2 separate regions of the Homo sapiens genome follow, and region 2 is linked to region 1. Evidence: fine-mapped expression QTL. A gene starts in region 1. The other region holds a variant in brackets. All regions are shown on one strand. Distances are between the middles of the regions. Region 1 holds the start of PRRC2B (proline rich coiled-coil 2B). Region 2 holds the start of SNORD62A (small nucleolar RNA, C/D box 62A).

Region 1 (10,398 bases):
CAGGTATGTTTTCTTCCTCTGACACCTTGCTGGATGCTTTGTCCCCATAGTGGTGACAGTAGGGGAAGGGAGGCTGGGCACCCACCTCCAGGCTTGCTGAGGTTTGGAGGCTTTAGTGCATGTGCTTATTTGGCTGGTTTTGTGAGCCGTGTGTTTTGTGTGGTTGGTCAGGAGCCATGATTTTGGCCTCAGTTGTCCAGGCATCCACTTTTCAACCACCATGGAGATTGAGTGCTTACTTTGTGCCAAGCTCTCTTCTCTGCTTGGGGATCCCAGCTGGAGAGACACCACAGTGCTCCCCACCCAATTTTCGCAGGTAGAAACTCTTAGGCACCAAAAGGCTAGCTCTGCTGGTTGGAGACAGAACCAGAACTAAAACCTCGGAACATGGTTGTTTTTTTTTTTGTTTTTTTTTTTTTTGAGATGGAGTCCTGTTTTGTCGCCAAGCTGGAGTGCAGTGGCGATCTTGGCTCACTGCAACCTCCAACTCTTGGGTTCAAGCGATTCTCCTGCCTCAGCCTCCCGAGCGATTACAGGTGCCCGCCACCACGCCTGGCTAGTTTTTGTATTTTTGGTAGAGACAGGGTTTCACCGTGTTGGCCAGGATGGTCTTGATCTCCTGACCTCGTGGTCCTCCCGCCTTGGCTTCCCAAAGTGCTGGGATTACAGGCGTGAGCCACTGCGTCTGGCCTGTGTTTGTTTTATTGACTGTAGTGGCCCTTCTCTGCCCAGTTCAACAGCATGGCCCCAGAGCCTGGCACAGTGAGCACCAGAGTGCAGGTGCCCAGTGAATGAACGGACGAACTTTGATTCCCAGGGCTCTCCTCTGGGCTAAGCACTTTGCAGGGATGGATGACTGCATGCCATTCTCTCCATGAGGATGGTCAGGGAGGTAGGAGATGGCTGAGCTGGATTTGAAGCCAGGTCTCTTCTCTCCCAAGACTCCTAGCTTGCCTTTTTTTTTTTTTTTTTTTTTTTTGAGACAGAGTCTTGCTCTGTCGCCCAGGCTGGAGTGCAGTGGTGTGATCTCAGCTCAGTGCAAGCTCTGCCTCCCAGGTTCATGCCATTGTCCTGCCTCAGCCTCCCGAGTAGCTGGGACTATAGGCGCCCGCCACCACGCCTGGCTAATTTTTTGTATTTTTAGTAGAGATGGGGTTTCACCATGTTAGCCAGGATGGTCTCGATCTCTTGACCTCGTGACCCACCTGCCTCGGCCTCCCAAAGTGCTGGGATTACAGGCGTGAGCCACTGTGCCCTAGCTTTTTTTTTTTTTTTTTTTTTTTGATACAGAGTCTCGCTCTGTCGCCCAGGCTATAGTGCAATGGTGCAATCTCGGCTCACTGCAACCTCCACCTCCCAGGTTCAAGCAGTTCTCCTGCCTCAGCTTCTTGAGTAGCTGGGATTACAGGCACATACCACCAGGCCTGGCTAATTTTTGTATTTTTAGTAGAGACAGGGTTTCACCATGTTGGTCAGGCTGGTCTCGAACGCCTGACCAAGTGATCTGCCCACCTCAGCCTCCCAAAGTCCTGGGATTACAGGCTTGAGCCACTGTGTCTGGCCCTAGCTTGCCTTTTAACCCTTCCCTCGCTGTGTTGCCTTCAGCAAGTCTCCAAGGTTGTACTAGTTTTCTATTGCTACATTACCACACATTTAGTGGCTTATGTAACTTTGTTATCTTAAAGTTCTGGAGGTCACGGTGGTTGGCAGGGCTCATTTTCTTCTGGAGGCTTTAGGGGAGAATCCATTCCTTGTCCTTTGTAGCTTCTAGAGGCAGCCTGCATTTCTGGGCGTGAGGTCCTGCGTCATTCCTTTGTCAGTCAATATGATGAACTCCGCTTCATCAACCACATCTTCTCCGACTCCGACCCTCCTTCCTTCCTCTTGTGAGGACCCTTGTGATTCCACCTGCCCAACCAAATAATCCAGGATTCATCTCTGCATCTCAAGATCCTTAACTTCATCCCATCTACAGAATCCCTTTTGCCAGAGAAGGTACCATTTTCACAGATTTCAGGGATCAGGACTTGGACATCTTTGGTGGGGGGCATTGTATTGCCTCCACAAAGTCTACTTTTCTTCTCTGTTGGATGGGCACACTAGTGTCTGTTTTATGGGTATGTCGTGAGGATTACCTGAGTGACTCTATAGGGAGTGTTTAGCACAGTGGCTGTCACATAGTAAGTGCTCAGTAAACCACCCTGTTACTGTTCAGCCTCCTCCTATCATTTTGTTTTGAGACAGAGTCTCTCTCTGTTGCCCAGGCTGGAGTGAAGTGGCGTGCTCTTGGCTCACTGCAACCTCCACCTCCTGGGTTCAAGTGATTCTTGTGCCTCAGCCTCCCGAGTAGCTGGGATTACAGGACCCCACCACCATGCCCGGCTAATTTTTGTATTTTTAGTAGAGACGGGGTTTCACCATGTTGGCCAGACTGGTCTCAAACTCCTGACCTCAGGTGATCTGCCTGCCTCGGCCTCCCAAAGTGGTGGGATTACAGGGGTGAGCCACCACGCTTGGCCTTACAAATAAAGAATCTGAGGCTTCAGATAGTTTATTTCTTTTTTGCTTGTTTATTTTCTTTCTTTTTTTTTTTTTGAGATGGAGTCTCACTCTGTCACCCAGGCTGGAGTGCAGTGGCATGATCTCGGCTCAGTGCAACCTCCGCCACCCGGGTTTGAGCAATTCTTCTGCCTCAGCCTCCCAAGTAGCTGGGATTACAGGCGACTGCCACCATGCCTGGCTAATTTTTGTATTTTTAGTAGAGATGGGGTTTCACCATATTGGTCAGGCTGGTCTTGAACTCCTGACCGCATGATCCACCTGCCTCGACCTACCAAAGTGGTGGGATTACAGGTGTTAGCCACTGCGCCAGCCTTACAGATGAAGAACCTGAGGCTCAGTTTATTTATTTAATTTATTTTTTATTTGTTTATTTGCCTTCTATCATTTTTATTAGTTGCTGGGTTTTGAGCACTGGGCCAATTCTATGGCCTTCCTGAAGATGGTCAAGGAACAAAATCGAAAACAAAAATTAGGGTTACATCCTCCCTGTTTTGTAGAGATAGCGAAATATTGAAGACATTGGCAGGGGAATAATGCAGATTTGATGATGTAAAACAGAGTGGCCGGCACTGTAATCCCAACACTTTGGGAGGCCAAGGTAGGTGGATCACTTTAGCGCAGGAGTTCCAGACCAACTTGGCCAACATGGTGAAATCCCATCTCTACCAAAAATACAAAAATTAGCTGGGCATGGTGGCAGATGTCTGTAATCCCAGCTACTCAGGAGGCTGGGGCAGGAGAATCGCTTGAATCTAGGAGTTGGAGGTTGCAGTGAGCAGAGATTGCGGATTGTGCCACTGCACTCCAGCCTGGGGGACAGAGCGAGACTGTCTCAAAAAAAAAAAAAAAGAAAAAAGAAAAAAAGGATAACACTGAAAATGACCATGGATAAAATGTAGGAAAATTCAGAGAATTATAAATAAGGCTATAAAAGTATCCAGAATTCTACTCCCCAAAAACTAAGCTTTGTTCACCAGCCTCAGTTCTGGAGTTAGGCTGAAGTGGGTTAATTTTCCTTCTGGGTCCAGCAGTGTGGCCTGGGGCACATTCTCTCAAAGCCTCCTTTGTCTCACCTGTGAATTAGAACAATAATATCTGCCCCTGGGTTAGGATTAAGTGAGACAAACCACGTGCTTTAGCATAGGGCATGGCCCGCAGCTGGTGCTTAGAGCAACCGTGACTGGAAGAGGGTGGGATGATTTGGGTGCCAGGCCCTAACATTTTTTTTTTGTATTTGCTTTTTGAAATTGCTTTTATAGTTGGTTAGGTGTCTAAAAAAGTAAGAACCCTCCTCCGCTCTCCCAACCTCAAACCACGGAGGTAACCAAGACAGGAGTGCAGTCTCCCGGACCTTTTGTTTTGCAATCACACAAACACACAACACTCAAGAGGAGGGGCTTATTAGTTTTCATTTTGTAAAAATGGGACAAAGTACCCATATTGTGCAACAACCTTGCTTTTGAAATGAAAAAAGTATTATTTCTGCTTCCTTTCCGTTCATATACCGTATACATATTTTAACAAAATCCGGGCTTAGTCTGTTCTGAGGCGCTGCAGTTTTGAAGGGGGAGGGGGCGGAGATCCGGGCTCGCTCCCCCGTCACTGCCCCCTCCATCCCTTCCCCCTCTTTCCGGGCGCCCTTCCCCCGGGCCCAGGCCGGGCCCATGCCCTTCCCAGGCCCCTTCTCTTGGCTCCTGGCCCCTCCTCCGGGTCTCCTCCCCGATCCCCGCTCTGCCCCGTTCTCTCCCGCCTCTCCCGCCGTCCCCGGGCCCCTCCCCACTCCCAGCCCCCTCCCAGCCCCCTCCCGCCGCTCCCCGCCCCTCCCCCCTGGCCCCAGCCCTCGCCCGGCCCCCGGGCCGATCCCAAGGCCGCCGCTCCCGGGAGGCGCGGCAGGGGGCGCTGCGCGGGCCCAGGTTGCGGGCGGCGGCGGGAGGAGGAGGACGAGGAGGCGGGGGCGGCGGCAGGCGGGGGGCGGGGAGCCGAGCGCGAGGGAGCGAGCGGCGAGACAGGCGCCGAGGCTCCACCGCGCAGCGACGAGCGAGCCCGGGAGGAGGGAGGGAGCGAGCGAGCGAGCAGCCCGCGCCGCCGCCTCGCAATCCGCCGCCATCCCGCCGCCCCCGTGCCCGACCGCCGCCCGACTGCCATCGCCCGGCCCGGCCGCGCCCGCGGAACCAGACCAGGTGGGTCGGGGCCGGGGCCGGGGCCGGGGCGTGGGGGCGGCGGCGCTAAGATGGAGGCGGCGCGGCCCGGCCGGGCTTTGTCTCCCGCGGCCGCCGCCGGGGGCCCGGGGGCCCTGCGGCCCTGCCCGACCTTTGTCCGCGAGCGCGGCCGCCGCCGCCTCCTTCCCGCCGGGCGCGGGGCTGCGGGGCTGGGAGGCCGCGGGGCCTGGGGGCGGCGGGCCCGGGCGCGCTCGCCATTGTTGTGGCGGCGCCGCGCGGCCTCAGGCTCGGGCGGGGTCCAGGGGCCGCGCGACTCCCTCAGGGCTCGCCCGCCACCCCCGTACCCCCGAGGCCGGGCCGGGCTGCAGAGGCCGGAGGGGCGGGGGTCCCGGGCCCGCAGCCGGGTCTCGGGGTTCTGGGGCCGGCGTCTTTGCTCCCCGCCCCGCCCAATTGACGGAGCAGCGCGCCCGAGGCGGGATCCTGCGGGGTCGGGCCTTGGGTCCGGGGCGCTGAGCGGCGTTCGCGGGGCCGTTCCTGGCGCGGGGTGGGCCGGGCCCCGGCGGCGCTAAAGTTGGCGGCTGGGGGAGGGAGGCGAGCGGCCGCCCAGTCTCGGTGTGAGTGCGGGAACCAGAGGGTTATTTTCGAAATGCTGAATGCTCCATGCTAAAAATGTTTAATAATAAACAGGATGTCGCCACTCGGGGCCTGCCAGATGGGGTTTTTTTTTTTTTCCTCCTCTTTTGCCTCCCCTCAACCCCCAGGAGAGAAATTCAGCCCTGTTGAAACTGTGGGCCTCTGAAGAGTGGATTTGCCTTAAGAGGTGGATTTTTTTCCTTTTTCTTTTTTCCTCCTTCTAAATATCGTGGGAGGTCGGAGCCCACCTTTAGGCAAGAATTGGAGGTGTTTTCAGTGGTGAGCTTGAAGGAAGTGGGAGAAGGGGGGCTGGGGAGTGTCTTTTGCTAAATGGCTTCCTGGGAGAAATCTTTAAATGCCTTTGGTTTACAGGACTGTTAAACTTTCCCTAAGATTTTTTTTTTCTTTAAGGTTTAGTGTGCATTTGATGTGGCTTTGTACAGTGTCATCCAGTTTGGTTTTTGTAACCAATTGTGTGCGGTCTTAGCATGGTTTTTCCGAATCTCGCTGCAGCCATTTAGTCATGTCTATGCACAGCGCTGTGGTGTAAGGTGGGACTGGGGAGGCCCAGGCATTGGGGTGCAGATCCTGCTTCTTTCTTCCGTAAACCTAGTGACTCTGGGGCTGTCTGAGGCTTCATCTGCATAAATCGGGGCGTGCACCCTCCACCTGGCAGGTTTGGGCAGCGGTGAAGGGCCTAGCAGAGGGCCTGGCACAGTTAGTGGTTCCTCCTACGGTTGTTGGTATAACTGCTGTCAAGTCCTAGGACAGACGTGAGCCCCTTGTGGTGCCACCCATAGAGCCAAACTGTGCCCATGGATGCCACAGGTGCTGGCCTAAGGCATGGACAATACAGAAGGAATTCAAGGCCCAAACATTAGTGGGCGCTTATACAGTGCTGAGCCTCTCGGGAGGCAGGGATGGGAAAAAGTAGCATTTGGAGGTCTCTAGAACTTAGTAGACCCGGAGTGTGTGGCAGTTGGTCAGTTTAAGGCAGGGTTAGAACAGTACGAGATGCTCAGGACAAACAGACGCCCAAGGAGTCCTGCCTTCTGAGGATAACTGCTTTCCTTGGGGATTGGCAGATAATCATCTGAGAGTGAGTTTCTACTTGTTTGGGCAAGTGTGTCTCTTGGAGCCTGCGCAGCTGGATTCTGGTCCTCATCGGGTTACCTTTACAAAGCAAGTCTCTGAGGCTCAGATCTTGCATCTGTAAAATGGGAATAATTATGCCTGCCTTGGGTATCTATTAGGGCTCTTGGGAGCCTCACTTAAGATTCACAGTGAATTGTTTTCTCTCCATAGGAAGGTGATGAAATGTATGTGTTTGTTGATTATCTGTTTTTCTGGTTCCTTTCTCCTTCCTTCCTCCCTTGCCCTCTTCCTCTCTCCCTCCCTCCCTTTCCCTTCCTTTTCCTTCCTTCCCTTCCTTCTTTTTTCTTTTCTTTTCTTTTTTTTTTTTTTTTTTTTGAGACAGTCTCACTCTGTCGCCCAGGCTGGAGTGCAGTGATGTGATCTCAGCTCACTGCAACCTCCGCCTCCTGGGTTCAAGCGATTCTCGTGCCTCAGCCTCTGGAGTAGCTGGGATTACAGGCATGTGCCACCACACCTGGCCAATTTTTGTGTTTTTAGTAGAGACAGGGTTTCACCATGTTGGCCAGGCTAGTCTCAGACATCCGACTTCAGGTGATTTGCCTGCCTTGGCCTCCCAAAGTGCTGGGATTACAGGCCTGAGCTACCGCGCCCGGTCTTCTTTCTCTTAATGCTTATTTTTTCCTCTTCTCTTGGTTGATGGAACTGTGACTTCCCCACCCCAAATTCTATGGCCGGCTAATGTTTTGCTATGGTGACTATCACCCATCTACCTGGAAGCACCAGAATGGCTTAGTACAGCTAGGGAGCTCAGCCAGATCTCGGTGTCTGCTGTTTGAGATTGTGTGGAAGGACTATTGCTAAGAAGCAGGAGACAGACTGAACCCAGTGTTGGCCACAAGTGAGGACTGAGACCCAGGTCACCTCTTGGCTGAACATGTTAGCTTGTTGGTAAATGGCTCTGCAGTGGTTCTGCATTTTATTGGGGAATTTGTTTTGGTTCATTTTGGCATTCCCGCAACCATCTTGTTGGTTTTTTGGTAAAATGTGGCACCCCCTCCAGACCTCCTAGCTGTGGAACTGAGATATTTTAGCAGGGTCCTGTCATCCTTTGATTTTTCCTCGCTTCCTGCCTCTTGGCCCTTCCTTTTTGTCTGACTTCACTCGGGCCCAGTCTGGCTCTATACTGTTAACTGGTTAGTTAGGCCAGGAGATAGTCGCTGCCTCTCCCATGAGCTTCTGCATACCTGTGAATTTTGGTTATCTGTGGCCCCCTAATGCTGATTGCATGCCCTTGCCTTAGGCCCTAAGCCCACTGTGTGGGCGTCCCATCTCGTACAGTGGCCGTCTCCAGCCTCCACTGGGCCCAAATAGGTAAAAAGAAAGCCTGGGGAAGGAAGAGCCAGGAAACCTCGGGAGAGTGGAATTTCAGGAATGGCAGGTCAGAACTGGTTCCAGCATGGGTCCCTTTGCCTTGTGCTTAGCTGAGGGATTTTTGTTATTAATTTTTTTTTTCCTGTTCAACACTCCTAACCTCTTTTGAATTTCAGTTCTCTTTTTTTATCCTGAAGGATTATTTTATTGTACTTTTGAGGGTTTTTTTTTTTTTTTTTTTTTGCCTTGCACAAAGTACTGACTCATGTTGCTAATGGCTGTGGCTGTATGCTAGTTATATGTCTCATTATCCTACCCCTTAAGATTGATCATTTCTGTGTTGGTTTCTATTTCAAACCAGAATAGGCCAGGTGGGTCAATTCATGTATTTCTGAATTCAATAATGAGGCTTCCCTACCGTGAAATGTACATATCTTGTCATGGGCGGACAGGTACTAAATAGAGCCTATCTATACTAGATTTTAAAACAATGGATTTCTCCCCAAAAAACAACATTTCCAGCAGACAATGGGCTTTGTGCTCCAAATCTTGTAATTTTGGTTTTAAATAAATTTCATGTAAGGAGGCAGGGCTAACTAGACTGTCTTCTTTTCAGATCATAACTTGATCTCTTTTTAAGATTATTTCTGGGACTTGTACAGCCTCAGGAAACTTGGGTCTGTCATTGGGACAAAGAAATACAGGCACTGGCTGTGGTGTTGGAGATGGGAGCGACATGGGATATGGTGAGCTTTGTTTCTGGTGAAATAGAATTGTTTGTCATTAGCTTTAGGTTTAAAAGGTGCCATTCAGACTGGACCTCCTCACCTGGGAGCTGGCAGACCTGGGCCTTGCCATTGGCGATATTACTGTTTATACCTCTGGGTGGCACGTGGGAAATCTCTTTTGTGCTGGGAGGTAGGTTTGTCTTAGTGTCTTGAGCCAGAAGTTGTGGTTGAGCTTTGTTCTCAGCTGTACTTGTTGGTTTTCTGTGTGACCTGAGAAGCATCCTTCGTCCGAGCTGAAGTGCACCTCCGAGGTGCTGGCAGCAGCACTGATTTGTGAAGCATTGCGTGCAGCAGGAGTAGCTGGCAGAACAAAGCCTATCTCAAGTTGCTGGCGGTCTTTCACATCTTGTACAGGACTTCCTTCCGTTCTTACCTCTGCAGCCAGTTGTGTGGCTTCCGTCTGGACCGTCTTCCTCCTTTCCAAGATAACCATCAGTCTTTTTCTCTGTGGGGCTGCAGCAGCAGTATTTATTGCATTTTTAATTGACTTGTCAGGCAATAGATACTCCTTGAGCACCTATCATTTGCCAGGCATTGTACAAGGCCCTTTAAATACATTTTTCTTGTGGTAGGGCAAGGTGGCTCATGCCTGTAATCCCAGTACTTGGGGAGGCCAAGGCAGGTGGATTGCTTGAGGCCAGGTTAAGACCAGCCTGGGCAATGTGATGAAAATAAAAAAATGCCTCTTAAAAGAAAAAATTAGTAGGGTATAGTGGCGCATGCCTGTAGTTCTAACTACTTGGGAGGCTGAAGCAGGAGGATCACTTGAGCTTGGGAGGTTGAGGTTGCAGTGAGCCGTGATCATGCCACTGCACTCTAGCCTGGGCGACAGAGTGAGACCCTGTCTCAAAAGAATAAAAAGTAGGTCGGGCACGGTGGCTCACGCCTGTAATCCAAGCACTTTGGCAGGCCGAGGTGGGCGGATCACCTGAGGTCAGGAATTCAAGACCAGCCTGGCCAACATGGTGAAACCCCGTCTCTGCTAAAAATACAAAAATTAGCTGGATGCCGTGGCGAGTGCCTGTAGTCCCAGCTACTCAGGAGGGGTGAGGCTGGAGAATCACTTAAACCTGGGAGGTGGAGGTTGCAGTGAGCCGAGATTGTGCCACTGCATTCCAGCCTGGGAGACAGAGTGAAATTCTGTCTCAAAAAAAAAAAAAAAAAAAAAGTCTGGGCACGGTGGCTCACACCTATAATCCCAGCATTTTGGGAGGCTGAGGTGGGCGGATCACGAGGTCAGGAGATCGAGACCATCCTGGCTAACACGATGAAACCCCGTGTCTACTAAAAATACAAAAAATTAGCCGGGCGTGGTGGCGGGCGCCTGTAGTCCCAGATACTCAGGAGGCTGAGGCAGGAGAATGGCATGAACCCGGGAGGCGGAGTTTGCAGTGAGCCGAGATCACGACACTGCACTCTAGCCTGGGCCACAGAGCGAGACTCCATCTGAAAAAAAAGGAAAATACTGAAAAGAATAAATGCCAAAATAAATATATAAATCACTTGTGACCTCACCATCCAGAGCTAACTGCAGTAAAGTTGCTGGTGTGTTTCTTTCCTCTGATAATGTCTGTGTTTTCTAAATTAGAGCAATAGTATATATACATTGAATACACAGTTGATAGCTTGCTTTTCCCCTTTTAATGTTATAGTGTATTCCTCTACGTTATTTTTATAATTATATAATTGCTATTATACGGATATGCCATAATTTATTGACTCCTGTATTCGTAGACATTTAGATTATTGTTGCCCTCTTTTCCCTCCTATAAGAGAAACTGTAGGGAGCA
Region 2 (11,753 bases), 94 kb after region 1:
AAGAAGTGAGGCTGGCGTCCTGTCTCCTGTGCCGTGGGGAAAATCTGGCCATCTCGCTCATATGTGGCTCCAGTGAATGCTGCTCAGTGGAGTTTTTGAGTCGGGGAAACTGCATCACGTTAATGTATGCCTCTGGGGAATGTAGGGCCAGGAGGATCTCAGTGGGCTGTGTGGCCTTTTTTATTTTTTCAGGACTCCGATTTCAGCTTGCCACCTGGTTCTGCCTCTGGTCCTACTGGGAGTCCAGTTGTTAAACTTCAGGATGCCTTGGCCAGTAATGTAAGTCCACACTTCCACTTTTGGCTCCACTCACTGCTTGGGGCTGGCAGGCCCTGGGTGAAGGAGACAGCACATGTATTTCAGGCTGACCTGGGCTGGCACGTGACTCAGTTGCTAGCAGCTCCATGTCCTTAAAAGGTGCTTAAATGTTCCTGCCCAGGTTTTGTGACCTTCCAGTGGGGATCATACAGTTCCTAAGGGCTGGTTTATTTGGCTCTCTTTGGTTCCATTGTCTCCTCTGTGCCAGGTGCGAGCCCAGACTCAGGCTGCCTTTTCTGTGGCCAGGGGTAAGGGGCACAGATTGAGTAGGAGAGCCCTCCTCAGGAGGCCCCATCTCACCATCCAAGGGTCCCTGCCGCCTGCAATCTAACTGTTGTGATCCAGAAGACCTGCTGGCGCTCTACCATGGGCTCAGGAGCTGGCAGTTGCATCTGTTGTGGCCACTCGGGGCTGCAGCTGAGGCTGTCGCAGTGACATCTGGTTCACTGCTCTGTCCTCACCACCTGCAGGGGTGGGTGCTAGTGCATATGCTGAATGAACGAGTATCATTTGGGCAGCGTTTCCCAGAGGATTCCAAGGAATGTGAGTGCTGTACAATATTCATAGGTGTTGAATGAAAACAATGTTTTGGAAGTGCTGGGCTCTACGAGGTTCTTTACTCGAGAGTCTGCGGTCTCTGTCACATGCAGATGGACACCGGGGATCTGCAGGAAGCGGGGGCACTGTTGCATTTCCAGCCTCTGTTACCAGAGCCCTCTTTTTCAGTTTGCTGAGGGGCACAGCCTTCCCTGTCTGGCCCAGGGCATCTCCAGGCCAGGTGGCAGGTGCCTTCTGAACCAGATGTTTGTGTGCGGGCTGCCAGTCCATATTTATACTGCCGGGACATGGCTCTCCCTGTCTGGAGGGCACTATGGAGTGTGGATATGGGGGTGGCTCTCTGCAGACTTGTGTGGAGGAAACTGATGGAGGCAGCCATCTCCAGGAGATCAGTCATGGTCCTGGCTGCCATCAGTTTCATCTGGGTGGTCTTGGGTACATGTGGCCAATACTGAAGATGCATTTGGACAATTCATAGACACGGAGCTGTAGGTGCTTTTGGGAAAAGCCATGGATGGGTTTGGGCAAGTCATAGATACATTTGGACGAGCCTTGAGTGTGTTCAGGAGAGCCATGGATGGGTTTGGGCAAAGCCATCTCTGCACCTGTTTGTGTTCCATGGTTTCCTTTTCCTCCTCTCCAGGCAGGGTTAACACAGAGTATCCCCATCCTGCGGCGGGACCATCACATCCAGAGGGCCATCGGTCTCTCCCCAATGTCCTTCCCCACCGCCGACCTTACTCTGAAGGTAACACCAGCCCTGAGCTGGGTGAGGGCCCACCCAGTACCTTAGCTTACAAAGAGGCAGAAGGGAGGAGTCCCCGAACCCCTAAAGCTTAGATTGGCTCTGTCCACTGCCAGCGTGATAGTAATTTTCATCCCTCCCCCTCCCCTTGCTTCTGAAGATGGAGTCTGCGCGCAAGGCTTGGGAAAACTCCCCCAGTTTGCCGGAGCAGAGCTCTCCAGGCGGCGCTGGCTCAGGCATCCAGCCTCCATCCTCTGTGGGTGCCTCCAGCGGGGTCAACTACAGCTCCTTCGGTGGAGTGTCCATGCCACCCATGCCTGTGGCCTCTGTAGCACCTTCTGCTTCTATGCCAGGTATCTCATCCCCTGAGCAAGGCCTTGGGGTCCTTCTCCATTTATTATCAAGAAAAACGGATTAACAGCCCCGAATGTCACCTCCTGGCCTTGTCTTAAGTAGCATGTAGAAGTAGCAACTTGTTTTTAGGCCCAGTGGTCGTAGCTCCCATGTGCTGCAGGTAATGTGCACGTCCTGCTTCCCCACGCTGGGAAACAGAACTGGGGGATAACAGCGAGGCACTCCTGCCTACTGGTGACAGGAGCGAGCAAAGGCTTGACTTTGAGTCAGACCTGGGTCATGTGCTGGAGCCGTGTCGCCTCGGCTGGTGAGCAGCTCTTGCCGAGCCACAGTGTCCTCTCCTCTCTTACATGAAACTCCGTGGGGTGGCCACACCCGTGAGGCCAGGTCTTACCTGGAAAGGGCTTTGTATCAACAGAGCCCTCAGTCACTGGCAGCTACTTTTGTCCTGATTGCTGCCATCCTTATCGTGTGCCAGTGTCCCCAAGGGGAAGCGTGGGGGTTTTGAGGGCCCAGCTGCCAGTCTCAGTGATGTAATTCCAATAGATCCTTCTGACCCTCCACTGTGGACTCAATAGCAGGGAGATGAAGAGGACAGTGACTGAGAGACCAAGGCAGCCCTGGTTAAAGTAGAATGCCCCTTCGAGTGTCTGGGGTAGTTGGTGAGTGGGAGGTGGGAAGGGTAGGCCAGAGCCCACCTGCCTCCTCCCTCCTCCTAGGTCTGACGCTGCACCCTCCCTACGTTCCCTGAGGTGCGTGCCAGGCGTGTTGTGAGCAGGCGTGTGCTTCCGGCACACAGGGAACCTAGCAGCCTCTGTACACACGCCCTCGTCCCCACTGAGTCCCCTGGGTAGAGCAGACCTGTAGACTGTTTCCCTCAGGGACATTGAGAAGTAGTGAGGCTTGATCCTCTTCTACGTCCCTTTTGCCGCTCTGTTTCCAGGCAGCCACCTCCCGCCCCTGTACCTGGATGGCCATGTGTTTGCAAGTCAGCCCCGGCTGGTTCCTCAAACGATACCTCAGCAGCAGAGTTACCAACAGGTGACAGCAGCTAGCCAGGTGGCCTGGCTGGGGGTGGTGGGGAGGAGCCAGTGCAGGGCGGAATTGGCTTGCTCATCTATTTCTCATTGTCTGTCTGGTTTTCCATCCCCCTCACATGTGGTGACCAGCACCTGGCCCGCCACGGCAGCCAGGAGGCATTTGTTAAGCGAATAATCGAGACAGGGAAGAGGAGTGGAGTTGGCTGCTCCAGACTCTGCTTAGTTTTCCTTTCTCAAAGTTCTCCCTCCTGTGTCCTAGCCGGGGAATTAGCTAAAATGGAATTTTCTTTGGTGATCAGGTATCCTTCTGATGAAGAGAAGAAAGGCCTAAACTCCCAGGCATGGATGCATTAGAAAGAGGTAGTCTTAGAAATGAGCAGGCGTTGGTTATTTATGCAGGACTGGCATA[C/CTT]TTTCTGTGCTGCCAAGGGGTGATTTTTGGAAGTCTCCCCTCTAATGCTGGTGCTGGGCCTTTGGGATGGTCTAGCCGCCCCTCAGACCCATGTGCCTCCACAGCCACGACAGTGGACTTCCAGGCAGAATCTGCTCCAAGTGCAGGCTTGCTGATGGAGGATGTGGCCTCTGCTGACCTCTTTTTAAAAACATGTTCTTAACTGCTGTATTGTTTGGTTACCAAGATTTTGGTTCTTGCATAACTGGGTCAGACTGCATGTATCTTTCTTTTTGTGCATTGTTAAATTCAGCGTTATGTTTTTGGAACTCACCTCTGTTGACGTATGTGCTAGGATCCATTTTTGTTGCTGTGTAGAATTCCAGGGTAGGGATATGCTGTGGTTTGGGGTTGCTACCAGTTTTTCATTATAGGCTTTATCCCAATAGCAAGGGAAGCCCAGGAATGACATGCTGGCATTTGAATTTTGGGCAGTGTTCCAGCAGCCATGTGGAGAGGGGCAGGGGAGGTGGGAGGGGAAGAACCACCTGGATGGGCCTTGCGGTTACCTCCCCGACCCCGTTTTCCCGTTCACAGGCCGCCGCTGCCCAGCAGATCCCGATCTCCCTTCACACATCTCTGCAGGCACAAGCTCAGCTTGGACTGAGGGGTGGGCTTCCTGTGTCCCAGTCCCAGGAGATCTTCAGCTCCTTGCAGCCCTTCAGGTGAGCTCATGTACCAGCTTGCGGAGCTGGCAGCTCACAGCCAGGGCCTTGGCCCTGTGTGCAGCCTTCGTCCTGCAGCTGTTTGGTGCTTGTCTGCTTTGGGGCCAGTGGGGCGGGGAGGGGTGGGAGTTTGCTCTGAATCACTCTTCAGTCCGTTGTTAACTGTGCTCTAGGAGAGGCCTGGGGCGAGCTGATATGTGGTGGGCCGTGTTTTGCTTTTCCATGTCATCTTGCCTCCTTTCCTTGCTCCTTCCTCCTCCTCTCCCCTTGACTCCCTGTCTCCTCCCCACCGCGGGCTTCTCCGTCAGTGTGGCTGCCAGTCATTGTGGCTGATGTCCTGTGCCTCGTACAGCCTGGATGTCTTCACTTGTTTAATCCAGCAGCATCAGCGCCATCTAGGAGCTTGTTCTCAGGCCCCATCCTGGACCCTCTGAGTCGCGCTCTGGGGGTGGGGCCGGGGATCTGTGGTTTAGCAAGCTCTCCGGGGATCTCTGAAGGGTGGGACCAGATCCGCAGCTGGACTCATCCACCTGATCCCGACCATCTGTCTGGCTTTTGCAGATCTCAGGTGTACATGCACCCCAGCCTGTCACCGCCCAGCACCATGATCCTCTCTGGGGGCACAGCCTTGAAGCCTCCATACTCGGCGTTCCCAGGCATGCAGCCCTTGGAGATGGTGAAGCCGCAGTCTGGCTCACCCTACCAGCCCATGAGCGGGAACCAAGCCCTGGTCTACGAGGGCCAGCTCAGCCAGGCTGCTGGCCTGGGTGCCTCCCAGATGTTGGACTCCCAGCTCCCACAGGTCAGGAATTCAGTCACTCTACCCAAAGCCCTAGGCTTCTTTCCTTCACGACCTTGCCTTTTCTTTTCACCCGCCTCTCAGTGTGTGCTGGCCTATCGTGCTGTTGGTTGGTAGCCACCGTGCCCATTCCTCAGCGTGCAGGAAATCAGCCTCTTCTGAGTAGCCCCATCACCTTTTTTTTTTTTTGGACAGAGTCTCGCTCTGTTGCCTAGGCTGGAGTGCAGTGGCATGATCTCGGCTCACTACAACCTCTGTCTCCCACATTCAGGCGATGCTCCTGCCTCAGCCTCCTGAGTAGCTGGGACTACAAGTGTGTGCCACTGTGCCTGGCTAATTTTTGTATTAGTAGAGATGGGGTTTCACCATGTTGGCCAGGCTGGTCTCGAACCCCTGACCTCAAAGTGATCTGCCCGCCTTGGCCTCCCAAAGGGCTGGGATGACAGGCGTGAGCCACCACCCCTGGCCCCTCATCCATCTCTTTATTCTTGAGACCTGGCTGTCCCCTAAGCACTGCCTGCTCCTGCAGCCCCCAGACGGGGGCTCCTTCCTTTCTCCCTGCCCTTGTGCAGTAGGGTGTGGAATGGGTTAAGAGTCCTCTTTGTGTAGTTGTTGATGCTTCTAGACTCCTCTTCTTCCTTCCTCCCTGAAACGCCAGCTTTGAAGCCCACACCATAGACTGTGCCTGACAAGCCCTTCACTCTGCTATGGTGCCATCACCACATCCAGTGTCTGCTGAGAAATCTTCCTCTCCGTCAACCTGTGGGCAGTATTTGGCACCTTTGAAGGTCACCCTCCTTGTCTGGTCTGGCTTGCAGTCTGTCTCCACTCTCCTGTTCCAGTTCCTAGTGGTTTTGATGTCTGCAGAGATGACCCCGGGTCTCTGTGCCATGGACCCTGTCCATGCAGTTTGTGCCCTCCTCGCCACTGGTGCCCTTGTTCACATGGGCCCCTGCTCTGTGCACTCCTGTCTAGGCTTGGCTGCTCCCAGTAGCTGTGGCTCTCGCATAATCTCAACTCTCAGTGTCCCTCTCAGTTGTCACCTCTGGCTTTTTCAATTCACTCCCTCTAGTGACCCAACTCCAAAATTCTTTTTTTTTTTTTTTTTTGAGATGGAGTTTCGCTCTGTTGCCCAGGCTGGAGTGCAGTGGCGCAATCTCGGCTCACTGCAACCTCTCTGTCTCCTGGGTTCAAGCAATTATCGTGCCTCAGCCTCCCGAGTAGCTGGGATTACAGGCGCCCACCACCCACCGGCTAATTTTTGTATTTTTAGTAGAGATGGGGGTTTCACCATGTCAGGCTGATCTCGAACTGCTGACCTCAGTGAGCCACCCACCTTGGCCTCCCAAAGTGCTGGGATTACAGGTGTTAGCCACCACACCCAGTCTCTGCCACCCATGTTTTTGTCATCCTCCCCCTTGGCCTGGCTTCTTCCTCCCCATCAGCAGATCTGCCGAGCCACATGGCCTTTGCATTTCATCCAAGCTGTGGCTCCCAGTCAACCCCCACCCTCCTAGCAGCTTTTCAGACTTGCATCTTGCCCCTCGCTGCCTCCCACCCATGACCTCCCTTTCTGTGTCACCCAGGAAACAGGAGCAGTGACAGTCTCCAAGCCCCTGTGGCCACATCCCTGCCTAGGTGCTGCCTGTGCCCCTGGGGGGCCCTGCCCCAGCACATCTCCCTCTCTTTCATGCATCAGATATCCCTTCCCGTCAGTACACAGACGAGCTGCAGTGCTGACCCCGTAATCCCGCCCCCCACACCCCTCGAACCACTTTCTTCACCCAGTTTCCAGGCCGTCGCTCCTGGCTTTCCTGCTGCCTCAGGCCTCCTCCTCAGTCTCCTTTGCTGTCCCCTCTCCTTCCCAGTCTGTAATGGTCAGCATGCCCGTGGGCCCTGCTTTGGGTGTGTTTCAAGAGTCATGGCTCTAAATTCCTTCATCTTCTCCTCACTCCCAAATGGACATCTTTAGCTCAGATCTGTCCCTGGAATTGAATCTCAAATCCAATGGACTTTCCAGCATGTCTGCTATGGTGTCTTATGGCATCTCAAGACTCATCATATTCAAAACTCGATTTTCCTCCCGGTCCTTCTGCTTGTCCAGTCCACATCCTCCTTGGCTCCCTGCTCCCCCTCACCTCACCCCCTTACCCTTCAGCAGGCCTGTCAGCTCTGGCTTTAAAAGGATTCAGAATCCAGCTGTGTCTCATCCCCTCCACACCCCTGCATGCTGTCCAGCTCCTGTAGGGACTCCTACCTGGCCTCCCTGCAAGTCAGATCATACCCCAAGTCAGCACTCTATAAATGGCAGCATCTTCCCATCATTTTCATCCTGCACCATTTTGGTGCTCCAAGGAGGAGCATGGTGTTTTGCGGCTCTGGCCACCACAAGTCTCAGTGATGTAATTCCAATAGATCCTTCTGACCCTCCACTGTGGACTCAATAGCAGGGAGATGAAGAGGACAGTGACTGAGAGACCAAAAGTGGCCCAGCCCCCCTACCCCATCCTGTTCCCCTGTCCTTACAGTCTCTGGGCCCACATCCCCACCTCGCATATCTTGTTCTAGTTAGTTAGGCCCTGCAGCTACCCTGTTCTCCTGTCAGCATGCTTCAAAGGACCCCCACAGTCTGGAATCCAGCCCAGTCTTGTTTTTACCACCACTTGATGCAAAACAGTAAGAGTCTTGAACGTGTGTGCTGTACAAAGGAATGCAGAGATATACGTCCGATGCAGCTTTCATCTTTTGGGACTTGGCTTCGCCATTACTTCTGACTTTCCTCACTCGTCCTCTCCTTGCCCACCCCGCCCCGTGTGCACCCATAAATCTGGTGTGCACCCACAGATCCTATGCCGCTCTGCATCCCGAGTGTCCTGCAGCTGTGTCCAGTGTGTGACACACTATCCTGGCAGTGTGCAGGCCCATGTTGGACAGGGCCCTGCCGCTTCCTTGGCACCTTGTATGCTTTCAGTAAGCACTTGCTGGACAAAGGCAGAAAGGGCTGAAGATAGACGCAGCCCTTAGCAGAGATGTGGATGAGACACACTTAACGCTGTTAGTTCCCATGCCTGCAGCCAGCTTAGTCTTGCCCGTTTTCTCACCACCTACTCTATTCCAGCAAGAAGACGTGCCTCTGCCATCGAAGGTGTGAAATCCTGGGCGATCTCTCCTGTGCTGCAGTAGAAATTAGAGCATGTCCTGCTTTATGCAGGCTTTGCTTTAGTTCTTCTGAAGTGTATGAATCTGAAGTGCATGTGCGGTCGCTCTTTGGTGCGTTTGGGGTTTCTCCATAGCATCATTCCCCCTCCTGACTGTCATTGTCGCCCAGCAGCTGACCATGCCACTGCCTCGGTACGGCTCCGGGCAGCAGCCACTGATCCTGCCCCAGTCTATTCAGCTGCCACCTGGGCAGAGCCTCTCCGTTGGGGCCCCCCGAAGGATTCCTCCGCCCGGGTCCCAGCCGCCAGTCCTGAACACCAGCAGAGAGGTAAGGGGACCCCATCTGCCTCTGACCCTAGGGAGGGGGCCTTGTGTCACCAACTTTTTCTAGCAAGCTAAGTACCCCTGTGTGGTAGAAAGAGCCAGTGGCGTGGGACTGCCAGGGCAGAAAGGAAGGTGACCATGTGTGGGGCCATCACAGAGGCAGGTCCTGGGGACTCTGAACATGTCGAGGGCTGAGGGCCAGGAATCAGCATTCCTCCCCAGCTCCCCAGGAGGCCCTGCTATGGACGGCCATGTTTCATTGGCTCTCCCACTTCACTTTAAAAAGAACAAAATATTGTGATGGTTCTTGCTTCTAAGAAGAAGCCCTCTTGAGTCTGGCTTAGAGGGAAAGGGCTTGCAGATTTCTCTAGAACAGGGGTCCCCAGTCCCCGGGCTGCAGAGCTGTACTGGTCTGTGGGAAAATTGTCTTCCATGAAACTGGGCCCTGGTGCCAAAAACCACTGCTCTATAAGATGCCTCCCTGGGAATTCCCATGGCCCTCACCACCTCTGCCCTGGGTTGTTCAGTAAGTGTGTGGTCCAGCTGTCTCCAGGGCCTCAAATGACAGCTTGTTCCTGCTTGGTCTCTCTAGCCCTCTCAGATGGAGATGAAAGGCTTCCACTTTGCCGACAGTAAACAGAATGTCCCTTCAGGAGGCCCCGTGCCATCGCCACAGACCTACAGGTAAAGCCACTCCCTGGGGACTGCGTGCTGTGTAGCTGAGCAGTTGCCAGAGCTGCGGCCCAGTGACTCAGAAGAATCTGGGCCCAGGGAGAGCCGCCAGAGACCTGGTCCCTCTATGGGCCATGTGTCACTGTGGTGTTTCAGCACTGGGATGCACTTGTGTTCCAGTTAAATTTGGGGGAGTGAGGAGTCAGGAGAGTGGTTTTGGTTTTAATCATTATAATAAGATGCTCTGGATTGGGGAGCTTTCTGGAAAGGTAGGAAAAGGAACGGCTGACATTTAGTAGGCATCAGGACTGACGTGACTTCCCATTAGATCCTAAAAACAGGACCCACTGGCCACAGGGCTGCATCCTGGCAAGGGGAGGAGCGTGGCCTTTCCCAGCGTCTCTTTCCTCAGACTTGCCCTATGACCCCTGCCAGGGGACTTTTTATTGCTGGGCTTATGGGGCCATTCCTTCCATGCTACAAACCAGCACCCTCTTTTTGCTTCCTTTGTGTCTGTCTCCACCTCCAGCAACTGTCTCAGGTCCCCTTAGCTGGATACTCAGGTGGCTCTGTCGGATGTTGGCGAGAGCCTCTGGTCCACTGCCTTTTCTGCCCGTGCTGGTGTGTGAAGGCAGCACGCTCTGGCCCTGGGCTCCGAGGGCTTGTACAGTCCACCCTTGTTACATGTGGGAGATTCCTGAGACCCCTCTGTGTTTACAAATGAGTGAAACAGACCTGCCTGACCCATGGTGCCCTGTGAGGTTAACACCATCGCTGCAGACGCCATGAGGTATCCCCACGACTACACAGGTACTTGTGGGCCTGAGGAGCGCTCTGCAAGCCGGGCCCCCATGGTCTGCAAGTTGCTCCAGCTGCACCCCCTCTGCCTTGCTGCCCTCCCTCTGCCCCACCGCCCTTTGCCTGTCCTCCATCACAGCATTCCACTCTTGTACCTTCATTTCCAGAGAAAGGGGTTTTTGTAGATTTTCCTCCCATTCCATCTTTTCTGTTCTTATTTTCACTCTCCTGGCTTCATTTATTTCTGTTTTTAGTACGTTTCGTTTTCCTACCATGTCTGTCACATAGACCAAAACATCAGGACTGTGTGAAAAAGATAGCTGGACAGCACCGACCATGGAGCGGAACTGGAAGGAGGAAGGCGGCTGCAGGTCTCAGCAGACGCTGTCCCGCTGCTGCCACAGGCAGATTCCAGCAGCCTCTGGCTACAGAGCCTTCCTCAAAAAGCAAAACCCAGAGACAGAGCCTCACGGGACAAGAGTCGCCTGTGTCTATGTAGTTGTAGGAATGAATGGCAGCAGATTATTCTTTGGAGCATATTTAGAAAGTGGAAGCCTTAAACTAGTAGCTTTGTTTCTATGGTGTTTTAGGGGGGTTGGGGAAATTGCTATAATTGTATAAAGCAGTGTTTGCCAAAGTGTTCTGGAAATAGAGCTGCTGAGATGTGCGCTGCAAAAACAAGGGTTCCCTGGTCAGGTCCTTGGGGGAGTGCTGTCCCCAGGGTGGCCTGCTGGGGAGGGTACTCACCACACAGGCTGAGCGGGCCTAGGTTGAGAGTCCTGTTGAACTCTGCACACGGCACTTAGGCTTTTTGACCGCAGACTTTTTTTTTTTCCACGTAGCACCTAATTAACATCCCTGGGAACTAACTAGTGGTCAGTGGAACACATTTAGAAGCATGTTGTACATTTTGGTTCCCCCATCCCCTTTTCTGAAAAGTGAAGACTAGAACAATACTCGGCACAGTTCTGGCTCAGCGTCAGGCTTCTAGGCCTTTTGTCTGGGGCACTGCATCGTGTTGGTCCAGACCCTGAGACGGCCAGTGTCGCTTTCTGCACAGCAGGACAGCCATGCCCATCTGTACAGGGCCTCAGCCTCCCTCTCTTGCGGTGCGTCTCCTTGAGCTCTGTCCTGGAGGTGCCAGGGTGGTCAGTGACAGCCACCCCCTCACCCTTCTGCGTTCTGGGCTGTCTTAGGTCTGTGGTTGTTTTCCATCCAAGAGATCCACGGACCGTCCCGAGTGAGCGCCTCTGGCCGCAGGCCCTTCCTTCCTTGTGCCTCCTCCATGTGCTAGGCTTTGACTCCATTTCTGTGGTGACACGTTGTGTATTCTCAACCCCTGCCTTTGGTTTTTTCAGGCCTAGCTCTGCTAGCCCCAGTGGGAAGCCCTCTGGATCAGCAGTTAACATGGGCTCTGTGCAGGGACACTACGTGCAACAGGTAGAAGATGGCTTTCCAGACCCTTCAGCCCTGGACACTTAGGCCCGTCTCCAAGCGCCAAAAGAGAAGGGACTGTCCAACCTATCTGAGCGCCCCCTGTCTAAAGACAGCCATGCCCTAGCGGTTAGAGCACAGAACCGGGAGCTGGGCCGCCCGCGTCCCTCCTGGCGAAGGCATTTCTCCTCTTGACGGGCGTCTGGATCCTTCCTTGTCCTGCAGAGAAGGGAGGATGCTGATTCCTCTGAGGAGGTGGTGCTGGAAGGTGGACCAGCCCTGGCAGGTCGGGGCTGAGGCGCCCTGGGAGACTCGGTTAGGTTTGGGGGTCGGCTTTAGGAGCCGGGGTGCGCGCGCTGGTTCTAGTCAGTGGTGTGTCTCATCTTTGTCTTGGCTGGGTGGGAGCACAGGTGAAATTAAGTTTTCCCATTTTATAATG

Evidence for each region. PIP is the estimated chance that this variant, and not a neighbour inherited with it, causes the effect. A credible set is the group of variants that fine-mapping cannot tell apart.
Region 2: its variant is the best candidate, but not a certain one, in a credible set for the expression of PRRC2B in whole blood (INTERVAL, PIP 0.77).

Annotation. Positions count from the first base shown.
Region 1 is chr9:131,389,522-131,399,919 of GRCh38, forward strand. PRRC2B (proline rich coiled-coil 2B) reads left to right here and starts at 4,565. Exons shown (of 32, transcript NM_013318.4): 1 at 4,565-4,742. RefSeq lists enhancers at 3,789-3,938, 5,065-5,826, 6,589-7,350, 8,968-9,047 and silencers at 4,409-4,598, 4,629-4,738, 4,969-5,258.
Region 2 is chr9:131,483,167-131,494,919 of GRCh38, forward strand. It overlaps PRRC2B (proline rich coiled-coil 2B), which reads left to right. Exons shown (of 32, transcript NM_013318.4): 23 at 193-279; 24 at 1,520-1,624; 25 at 1,782-1,974; 26 at 2,919-3,016; 27 at 4,001-4,128; 28 at 4,690-4,930; 29 at 8,259-8,414; 30 at 9,003-9,094; 31 at 11,239-11,320. It overlaps SNORD62A (small nucleolar RNA, C/D box 62A), which reads left to right and starts at 2,499; the gene lies at 2,499-2,584. It overlaps SNORD62B (small nucleolar RNA, C/D box 62B), which reads left to right and starts at 7,320; the gene lies at 7,320-7,405. RefSeq lists an enhancer at 6,031-6,531. The variant C/CTT (reference allele first, on the strand shown) is at 3,425.